3 linked regions of the Homo sapiens genome follow. The protein of the gene in region 1 purifies or fractionates together with the protein of each later gene. This does not show direct contact. Each region holds a gene or a part of one and is shown in the gene's direction. Other genes may lie near its edges. The genes, in order: TM2D2, ALG8 and SGPP1.

Region 1 (2,758 bases):
ATAAAGTAAGTGTTACTTTGATTGGAGTAGTTGGTACTTGGTTGGAGGTAGAGCCATTTTCCTTGTCTTTTTATTTATTTATTTTTTGTTTTAAGAGACAGGGTCTCACTCTGTTACCCAGGCTGGAGTGCAGTGGTGCAATCATGGCTTATCGCAGCCTGGACCTCCTGAGCTGAAGCAATCCTCCTGCCTCAGCCTCCCGAGTATCTGGGACAACAGGCACATGCCACTGTGTTCAGCTCATTGTTATTTTTTGATATGACTTTTTTTAAGCACCAAAGAGGGTCTATGGCTACCATTGTGCATAATTCATTGACAGAAGCAATATGTTTATAGTAGAGAGGACTCTGGACTTAAGCCCGGAAGGTGAAGTTCTAACTGTCTCTTTCTCTAACTTGCTAAGTGCCTGTGGGCACTCAGTTTATCCCTTATCTACAGAATTTTGGGCCAGATGATCTAGCCCCAAAATTCCTACAATAGATATAAATCTTGTGCAAATTGCCCTAGTATTTCAGGAATAAAGGTTTTATTATAAAAAGTGTAGGCTCCACACTCTGAAAATCAGTTTATCATTAAGGTAAAGGAAGGCACAGAATTTCCTTGTACAGTTTGCTAATGGAAACAGTCTATGAGTATGATTAGTAATATTAGGGTAACTGCAGCTGTGTCAGCACAGTGGATAAGGGCAGAGCCTTATGAAGAAGTCCTCGCTTTTCGCTGCTCAAAACAACAGGAAAGAGTGTATGGAGATCAAGTGTTCATTTAAGAACAGTGCTTCCTTAGAGAACTACATGCAGGAAGCCAGCTGAGTCTCAGGAAAAGAGCCTCTACAGAGGAGGATGGGAGCCCAGACTCCTACTCCTACCATGGTGCCTGTTGTGCAAATGTGCTTGATGACTTCTTGTCCAATCCAACTCTGCAAAAGTCAGTATTTGTTCTTAGAGATGCTCCATATCTTAGCAAGTATTCTGTTGAGACCCTCTACCAACTAGAGATTCTTAGAGGAGAGTAAAGTAAAGGTGAAGAGGGTGTATTATAAAAAAATGCGTATTTTTTTTTTTTTGGAGATGGGGTCTTGTTCCATTGCCCAGGCTGGAGTGTAATGGCACAAACAGACAAACAGGGCTCACTGCAGCCTCGACCTCCTGGGCTCAAGCGATCCTCCTACCTCAGCCTCCCGAGTAACTAGGACTACAGGTGTGCTCCACCACACCTGGCCTTTTTTTTTTTTTTTTTTTTTTTTTTTGGTAGAAACAGGGTCTCGCTATGTTGCCTAGGTTGGCCTGGAGCACCTGGGCTCAAGTGGTCCTCTCATCTTGGCCTCCCAAAGTGCCGGGATTATAGGCATCAGCCACCACCATGGTCAAAAAGTTTTTTAAATTATTGTACATTATGATGTTTGACATCTTAAAAACCTTTCTGGCTGTGAAGAGACTGCTCTTCCTGAAGCTAGTCATTTCTTAGAGATAGCAAAGGGCCCAACCAGCAGCATGCCTTTGATATGCAAACTAGTCTAGAGACATATCTTCTGTTTCTGGCCTGTACACCCCAGGAAATAATATTCCTCTGCCTTAGTCTTCTCAGGTCCAAGTGCCAGGCAACCAGGGACCACTCCTATAGCTTAGAGCCTGCTGAGGTTATTCAAACTAGCCAGTTCTAAACTATTCGCCCTGCCCTGTCTTGCCTTTCCTGCAGAAACCCCAATGAAGATAGTGGCCAAAAACCTTCCCCTCCCTTCTATCTTCCAACCACCCTGGTATCTTTGCCAGGTAGCCTTGTATAACATGATGTGCCTCCTGTCTCTGGGACCTATGAGTATAATAAACTTTGGTTTTTCCTGATCCTCTCACCTCACTGACCATATCATAAAAGAAAACAAAATGGAGGGTAAAAGGCCACAGAGGGTCCACTGCACTGTCTCATCACTTACGTTAAATTCACTAATCCTTAAGGGTTTAAATTTTCGTGCAGTAAAACATCTTCCTTTTCATTCCTTTCACCTAGGTATACCGGACACTACTTCATAACCACTTTACTCTACTCCTTCTTCCTGGGATGTTTTGGTGTGGATCGATTCTGTTTGGGACACACTGGCACTGCAGTAGGGAAGCTGTTGACGCTTGGAGGACTTGGGATTTGGTGGTTTGTTGACCTTATTTTGCTAATTACTGGAGGGCTGATGCCAAGTGATGGCAGCAACTGGTGCACTGTTTACTAAGAAGAGCTGCCATCATGGCCCAGGGAGGCGGGTGAAAGCTCCGTCTTCTGAATTCATCTCTACAGGCTCAAAACTCCTCTTTGATATCAGACCTGATGTTATTTTCCTTCTTTTGGAGGGCATTTGTTTGGTTAAGAAGGCTTCTTTGGACTTTGGAATTTCAACCCAGATTTTACCTTGCAGACGGAATGACAAGCAAAAAGTGTTGTGGGGAATCAAATTTGTTCCTTTCCTCATGCACAAAACATAAAGGATAGTGGCGAGTTTACAAGCTGTGGATGGGTTTCCATAGTCTTCCTTTCTGTACATTGCTATATCTTCAGTCCTTTGGAGCAAGTGGACCTAACAAGTTGAGCAAAATGAATATTTGGATCCATGTTCCTCTTGTGACCCTGAGTCTTCATGCAAGGAGATCTGAAGCTGAACAATGAAAATCTTCAGCAGAAATAGAAATGGCCGTGGATTGTAATACACACTGAAATTCTGACTTTCTGAATTTAAATGTAGAATAAATTTTACCAACTTGGAGTACTGTATGAG
Region 2 (3,657 bases), on another chromosome or scaffold:
TGCTAAATCTACTCTGCCTGTGATCTATAAATGGAACAACAAAGCCCTGGATGACAGCACATCTATTTACAGCATGGTTTACTGAATAAGCCCACTGTTGAGACCTACTGCTCAGAAACATTTTTTTTTTCTAGAGGCAGGGTCTCGCTCTATCTCCCAGGGTGAAGTACAGCGGCACCATCATGGCTCACTGCAGCCTTAATCTCCTGCGCTTGAGCAGCCTTCCTCCCTCAGCCTCCCGAATAGCTGGGACAAAGACAGATGCCACCATGCCCAGCTAATTTTTTTTCCTTTCTCTCTCTATTATCTGTCTGTCTATCTATCTATATGTGTGTGTTTTGTTTTGGTTTGTTTTTTTTTTTTCTTTTTGGTAGAGACGAGGTGTCACTGTGTTGCCCAGGCTGATCTCGAACTCCTGGGCTCAAGTGAGCCCTTCCAAAGTGCTGGGATTACAGGCCTGAGCCACCTCACTGGTCAATATTTTTCCTTTTTCTTTTCTTTTTTGAGACAGTGTTTCACTTTGTCAGGCTGGAGTGCACTGGTATGATCTCAGCTCACTGCTGCCTCTACTTCCTGGGCTCAAACAATCCTCCCATCTCAGCTCCCCAAGTAGCTTGAACTACAGGTGCACACCACTACACCCAGCTAACTTTTTGTATTTTTTGCAGAGATGGGGTTTCACCATGTTGCCCAGGCTCGTCTCAAATTCCTGACCTCAAGCGATCCACCTGTCTTGGCCTCCCAAAGTGCTAGGATTACAGACATGAGCCACTGCACCCACCCATTATTTTTCTTTTTTTTTTTTCTTATTTATTTATGTTTGAGACGGAGTTTCACTCTGTCTCCCATGCTGGAGTGTAGTGGCACAATCTCAGCTCACTGCAACCTCAGCTTCCCGGGTTCGAGTGATTCTCCTGCTTCAGCCACCCAAGTAGCTGGGATTACAGGTGCACACCATCATGCCCTGCTAATTTTTATATTTTTAGTAGAGATGGGGTTTTGCCACATTGGCCAGGCTGGTCTTGAACTCCTGGCCTCAAGTGATCTGCTCTCTTTGGCCTCCCAAAGTGTTGGGATTACAGGCGTGAGCACCATGCCCGGCTTTTTTTTTAAATGTATTTTTGGAGAGATGGGGTCACTGTGTTGCTCAGGCCGGCCTGGAATTCCTAGGCTCAAGCAATCCTCCTACCTTTGCCTCCCAAAGTTCTGGGATTACAGACATGAGCCCCTGTGCCCAACCTTAATGTTGTTTTCATGCCTGCTGATGTAACATCTATTCTGCAGCCAGTTGAGTAGTTGATTTTTTTTTTTTTTTGAAACAGGGTCTCACTCTGCCTCTCAGGCTGTAGTGCAGTAGCATGATCTCATCTCACTGCAACCTCCACCTTTCAGGCTCAAGCAATCCTCCTACCTCAACCTGCCAAGTAGCTGGGACTTAAGGTGTGTGCTACCATACCCTGCTAATTTTTTGTATTTTTAGTAGAGATGGGTTTTTGCTGTGTTGCCCAGGCTGTTTTTGAACTCCTGTGCTCAAGCAATCTGCCTGCCTTGGCCTCCCAAAGTGCTAGGATTATAGGCGTGAGCCACCATGCCCAATCAGTTTTGACTTTTAAGTCTTGTTATTTAAGAAATACATTTCATAAGGCTATATCTGCCATAGATAGTGATTCTTCTGATGGATCTGGGCAAAGTAAATTGAAACCATTCTAGATGCTATTAAGAACATTCATGATTCATGGGAGGAGGTCAAGATATCAACATTAACAAGAGTTTGGAAGAATTAGATTCCAACTCCAATGGATAACTTTGAGGGGTTCAAGACTTCATTGGAAAAAGTAACTGCAGATGTCATGGGAATAGCAAGAGAACTAGAAGTGGAGCCTGAGCATGTGATTGAATTGCTGCATGATATCTCATGATACAACTTGAGTGGATGAGGAGTTACTTCTCATGGATGAGCAGAGAAAGTGGTTTCTTTTGAGATGCACTCTGCTAATGAAGATGCTGTGAATATTGTTGAAATGACAACAAAGGATTTAGAATATTATATAAACTTAGTTAATAATCAGTGGCAGGGTTTGAGAAGAAGGATTGACTCTAGTTTTGAAAGTTTTACTGTGGGTAAAATCCTATCAAACAGCATTGCATACTAGAGGAATCTTTTGTGAAAGGAAGAGCCCATCAATGTGGCAAGCTTCATTGTTGTTTTATTTTAAGCAATTGCCACAGTCTTGCCAGGCGCAGTGGCTCATGCCTGTAATCCCAGCGTTTTGGGAGGCTGAGGCGGGCGGGTCACCTGAGGTCAGGAGTTCAAGACCCGCCTGGCCAACATGGGGAAACCCCGTCTCTACTAAATATACAAAAATTAGCCAAGTGTGGTGGTGGGCACCTGTGATCCCAGCCACTTAGGAGGCTGAGGCAGGAGAATCACTTGAACCCAGGAGGCGAAGGTTGTAGTGAGCCAAGATCACACCATTGCACTCCAGCCTGGGTGACAAGAGTGAGACTCCATCTCAAAAAAAAAAAAAAACCAGTTTGCCACAAGTCACCCCAATCTTCAGCACCCATAAACCTGATCAATCAACAGCCATCAACATTGAAGCAAAATCCTCCACCAGCAAAAAGATTAGGACTTGCCGAAGGTGCAGATGATCATTAGCTTTGTTTTAGCGATAAAGTATTTTAAAATGAAGGTGTACGCTGTCTTTTTAGACATAGTAGTATTGCACGTTTTATAGTATAGTGTAAACATAACTTTTTTTTTTTTTTGAGACGGAGTCTCGCTCTGTCGCCCAGGCTGGAGGGCAGTGGCGCTATCTCGGCTCACTGCAAGCTCACCTTCCGGGTTCACACCATTCTTCTGCCTCAGCCTACCGAGTAGCTGACCCTACAGGCGCCCCTCACCAAGCCCGGCTAATTTTTTTTGTATTTTTAGTAGAGATGGGGTTTCACCATGTTAGCCAGGGTGGTCTCGATCTCCTGACCTCGTGATCCGCCCGCCTCGGCCTCCAAAGTGCTGGGATTACAGGCGTGAGCCACCGCGGCCGGCCAGTGTAAACATAACTTTTACATGCTCTGGGAAATCAAAAAATTCATGTGACTCACTTTATTGCGATATTCACTTCATTATGGTGGTCTAAACCCACAATATCTCTAAGGTATGCCTGCACTAAAATCGAATGATACAGGAAGCTTAGCATGGTCCACGCACAAGGATAGCATGCAAATTTATGAAACACTTCATATATTTAAAAACGAATGTTTTTAATTGTAGTTAATGCTCTGTTTCTCAAACCAGAAACCCCTGGGATATGAGAGGGAAGTTACAGGATAAATGCAGATATATTCAACAAAACATTTACTAATTGCTTTATTATGTACCAGGTACTGTTGCTAGGCTAGAAGGGAGGAAAAAATAGATATGATCCCTAGCCCTGTGAAGTGTGTAGTTCAGTAAGTATAACAGTACAAGAAACAAATCAATGCAAATATATAGTTACATAACTACAATTTGGATTAAGTATTAGGAAGAAGAGGCTGGGTGTGGTGGCTCACGCCTGTAATCCCAGCACTTTGGGAGGCCGAGGCGGGCGGATCACGAGGTCAGGAGATCGAGACCATCCTGGTTAACACGATGAAACCCCGTCTCTACTGAAA
Region 3 (3,657 bases), on another chromosome or scaffold:
TGTGTTTATAAATGTTTGACTAATAATCCAGTACAAAAAACAAGATGGCTTTTTAACCTTTTTCCTTTTTTTTTTCCCTAAGAGTCGGGGTCTCACTATATTGCCTAGGCTGGTCTCGAACTCCTGGGCTCAAGTTATCCTCCCTCCTTGGCCTCCCAAGTGCCAGCTTTTCCTTTTTTTTTTTTAAGACGGAGTCTCGCTCTGTTGCCCAGGCTGGAGTGCTGTGGCGCAATCTCGGCTCTCTGCAATCTCCTGATCTCAATCAGGAGATTGAGACCATCCTGGCTAACACAGTGAAACCCCGTCTCTACTAAAAAATACAAAAAATTAGCCGCCCCCCGCTCATCGGCCTCCCCACCACTGGCCTCCCAGAGTGCTGGCATTACAGGCGTGAGCCACCGCGCCTGGCCTCCTTTTCCTTTTCCTTTTTTTTTTTTTTTTTTTTTTTTTAAAGATCCTTGTTATCTATTGAAAACAAAAGTACCTTCCTTTGCTTCAGCTGTTTGGGTCCTCTACTCTGTGAATTAGTATTGTACTGCATTGGAGGCTTATATAGAAAGCCTTTCCCCTAGAAACTGGGGGAAGAATTAAATAATGAAAGCCTGGTGTTTTTCTAATAAGTTTTGGTTGGCAGTCTTGCCTATCTGCTGTGCCTCAGCTGCTTATTTGGGACAGGTATGGTTACTTATATATGCCTGGCGTGCTGAAACATCTCTTGAAACTGAGTTCTATACCATTCCTTTGTCTTGGCTTTACTACTTCACTACTACCTACTACTTAATGTTTCTGCCCTCATTGAAATTTGCTCAAGATTCACCACCCAGAGCATTTTAAATTAATCCTTTCTGTTTCATTATTCCTCACTTACACTTAAAATGACAGTATATGGCCAGGTGTAGTGGTTCATCCCTGTACACCTAGCACTTTGGGAGGCTGAGGCGGAAGGATCCCTTGAGCCCAGGAGTTGGAGACCAGCCTGGGCAATATAGCGAGACCCTGTCTCTGCAAAAAAAAATCAAAAATCAGCTGGGCATGGTGGCGCATGCCTGTAGTTCTAGCTACTAGGGAGGCTGAGGTGGGAGCATCACTTGAGCCTGGGAGGTTGAGGCTGCAGTGAGGTGTGATTGCACCACTGCACTTCAGCCTAGATGACAGGGCAAGACCCTATCTCAAAAAAAAAAGACAGCGTACAAACTCGGGGTTGTTTAAAAATGCAGATTTCTACATTTCCCAGGGTAAGTTTCCCAGAGATTCTGACCCATTAGATGAGTGAGGAGTTAGTTGTATTTCTTCAAGATTGCTGTCTCAGCTTCTTTGAAATTCCAGTCTTTGAATTTTTTTTTTTTTTGAGACGAAATCTCTCTTTGTCACCCAGGCTGGAGTGTGGTGGTGTGATCTTGTCTCACTGCAAACTCTGCCTCCCCGGTTCAAGCGATTCTCCTGCCTCAGCCTCCTCAGTAGCTGGGACTACAGGCGCACACCACCACCCCCGGCTAATGTTTGTATTTTTAGTAGAGACGGGGTTTCACCATGTTGGCCAGGATGGTCTCGATCTCTTGACCTCGTGATCCACTCCCCTCAGCCTCCCAAAGTGCTGGGATTACAGACGTGAGTCACTGCACCCTGCCTGAATTTTTTTAAGGTACGTTATAAGACAAAGGAGAGATTGGAATAGTATAGCTCCAAGTAATTACTTAAAGAGTTTTGTATATAAATTTTATGGTGATGGAGGATAGAAAATGTTATGACCTTTTCCCAAGGATTAAATAACTTGAGATCCATTGCCTAGGATAATGGTTATTGCTCTCATATTATTCATTGGAATTTTTTGTAGCCTGAATTGGAAAAAAAATTAAGAAATAAGGAGCATCTGATATAAAGACAATAAATAGTCCTTTGAAGAATAAGATAAACAATATGACGTTCCTTTTCCATTTATGTTTGCATGTTCTTTTCAAAAATAAAATTTCTTAATTTTTAAAGCTCTGTTTGACTTGAATTAATTTAATTTTTAAATAATATGGAATGTAATCAGTTTTAACTGTATACTTTATTTAATTAGAAGGTTTTAGATTAATTTTTTTTTTTTTTTTTTGAGACAGGGTCTTACTCTGTCGCTCAGACTGGAGTACAGTGGCACGATTCCGGCTCACTGCAGCCTCGACCTCCCAGGCTTAAGTGATCCTCCCACCTCAGCCTCCCAAGTAGCTGGGACCACAGGCACACACTACCACCAGCTAATTTTGTTTGTTTGTTTGTTTGTTATAGAGACGGGGTTTTGCCATGTTGCTTAGGCTGGTCTTGAACTCCTGAGCTCAAGTGATCCTCCCACCTCGGCCTCCCAAAGTGCTGGTATTACAGGCGTCAGCCACCTTGCCCTGCTAAAAATTAGCTGTAGCACTTACTTTATAGACAACTCATTGCCAACTAGTCTTTCATTTTGTGTGCTTTTACTACTTTTTATTATAATAATTATATTTTATAATAATAATGTTATAGCATTGTTAATATTTTTATTTTTTATTTTTTATTTTTTGAGATGGAGTCTCACTCTGTTGCCCAGGCTGGAGTGCAGTGGTGCGATATTGGCTCACTGCAACCTCTGCCTCCTGGGTTCAAGTAGTTCTCCTACTTCAGCCTCCTGAGTAGCTGGGATTACAGGCACGCCCCACCACGCCCGGCTAATTTTTTTTTTTTTTTTTTTTCAATAGAGACAGGGTTTCACCATGTTGGTCAGGCTAGCCTCTAACTCCTGACCTTGTGATCTGCCCACCTTGGACTCCTAAAGTGTTGGGATTACAGGCATGAGCCACTGCGCCCAGCTGTTAATATATATTTTTAAGCACTTACTATGAATCAGACATTGTTTGAAATGTCTTTTATCTCATTTACTCTTCTATAATACCCCAATGTTCCTATTACTAGCATGGGTTTACAGATGAGGAAACTGAGGTACAGGGAGGTTATATTATGTAACTTAAGCAAAGTAACCTAGCCAGTAAGTGTCAGGGGCTCAGACTGACTCAGCAGCTTATATAGAAAATTCATTTTAAATCACACTTTGTGTGTGATTTTTAAGGTATGCTTGCAGTAATATTATTTTTGAAATATATGATTGTATTCTTAAAATATGAGAATAGCTTTTATATACCTTGAGAAGATAATTTGTGTTTGTGTATGTACATACATATGCAACATCCACAAATATTTGTGTTTTAAACATGTATGAAGATGTTGACTGAAATCAAATGCTGATTTGTCACCTAATATAAATAAAAAATTTGATAAACATAGTAAGAGCTTTGGAAAAGAAAGACACATAAGAATATTCTGTCAAAATGTTGTTTACTGTAAATAATAGAAGAAGATATCTGTGAGGTCATGAAAAGATAAATGGAAGAAAGGCAAAAAGTAAGAGTTACAAAAGTAGGTCACAGTAAAGACCAGAGGAGGCTGCAAGATCCAAGAAAAATTGATCACTATGGTAATTCTGGAAAGAAACACAGTTTATTAAAAAATTGAATTGGCTTGCCTCTTTTTTATGGAGCACGATACTTGTGTTTGAAATTCACGTTTTCCTGAGTTTATAAGTCCTTATTACTAATTCCTTTTTTTTTTTTCTGGATACGAAGTCTTGTTCTTGTCACCAGGCTGGAG

The links.
Region 2: the proteins of TM2D2 (region 1) and ALG8 purify together in Homo sapiens (affinity purification with mass spectrometry; one large-scale study listed by BioGRID and IntAct). This does not show direct contact.
Region 3: the proteins of TM2D2 (region 1) and SGPP1 purify together in Homo sapiens (affinity purification with mass spectrometry; one large-scale study listed by BioGRID and IntAct). This does not show direct contact.

Annotation. Positions count from the first base shown.
Region 1 is NC_000008.11:38,990,792-38,993,549, reverse strand, and holds part of TM2D2 (TM2 domain-containing protein 2 isoform a precursor), read left to right. Parts: coding exon 1-5; intron 6-2,004; coding exon 2,005-2,218; 3' UTR 2,219-2,758.
Region 2 is NC_000011.10:78,133,013-78,136,669, reverse strand, and holds part of ALG8 (dolichyl pyrophosphate Glc1Man9GlcNAc2 alpha-1,3-glucosyltransferase), read left to right. Parts: intron 1-1,322; exon of another isoform or gene 1,323-1,440; intron 1,441-3,657.
Region 3 is NC_000014.9:63,721,410-63,725,066, reverse strand, and holds part of SGPP1 (sphingosine-1-phosphate phosphatase 1), read left to right. Parts: intron 1-3,657.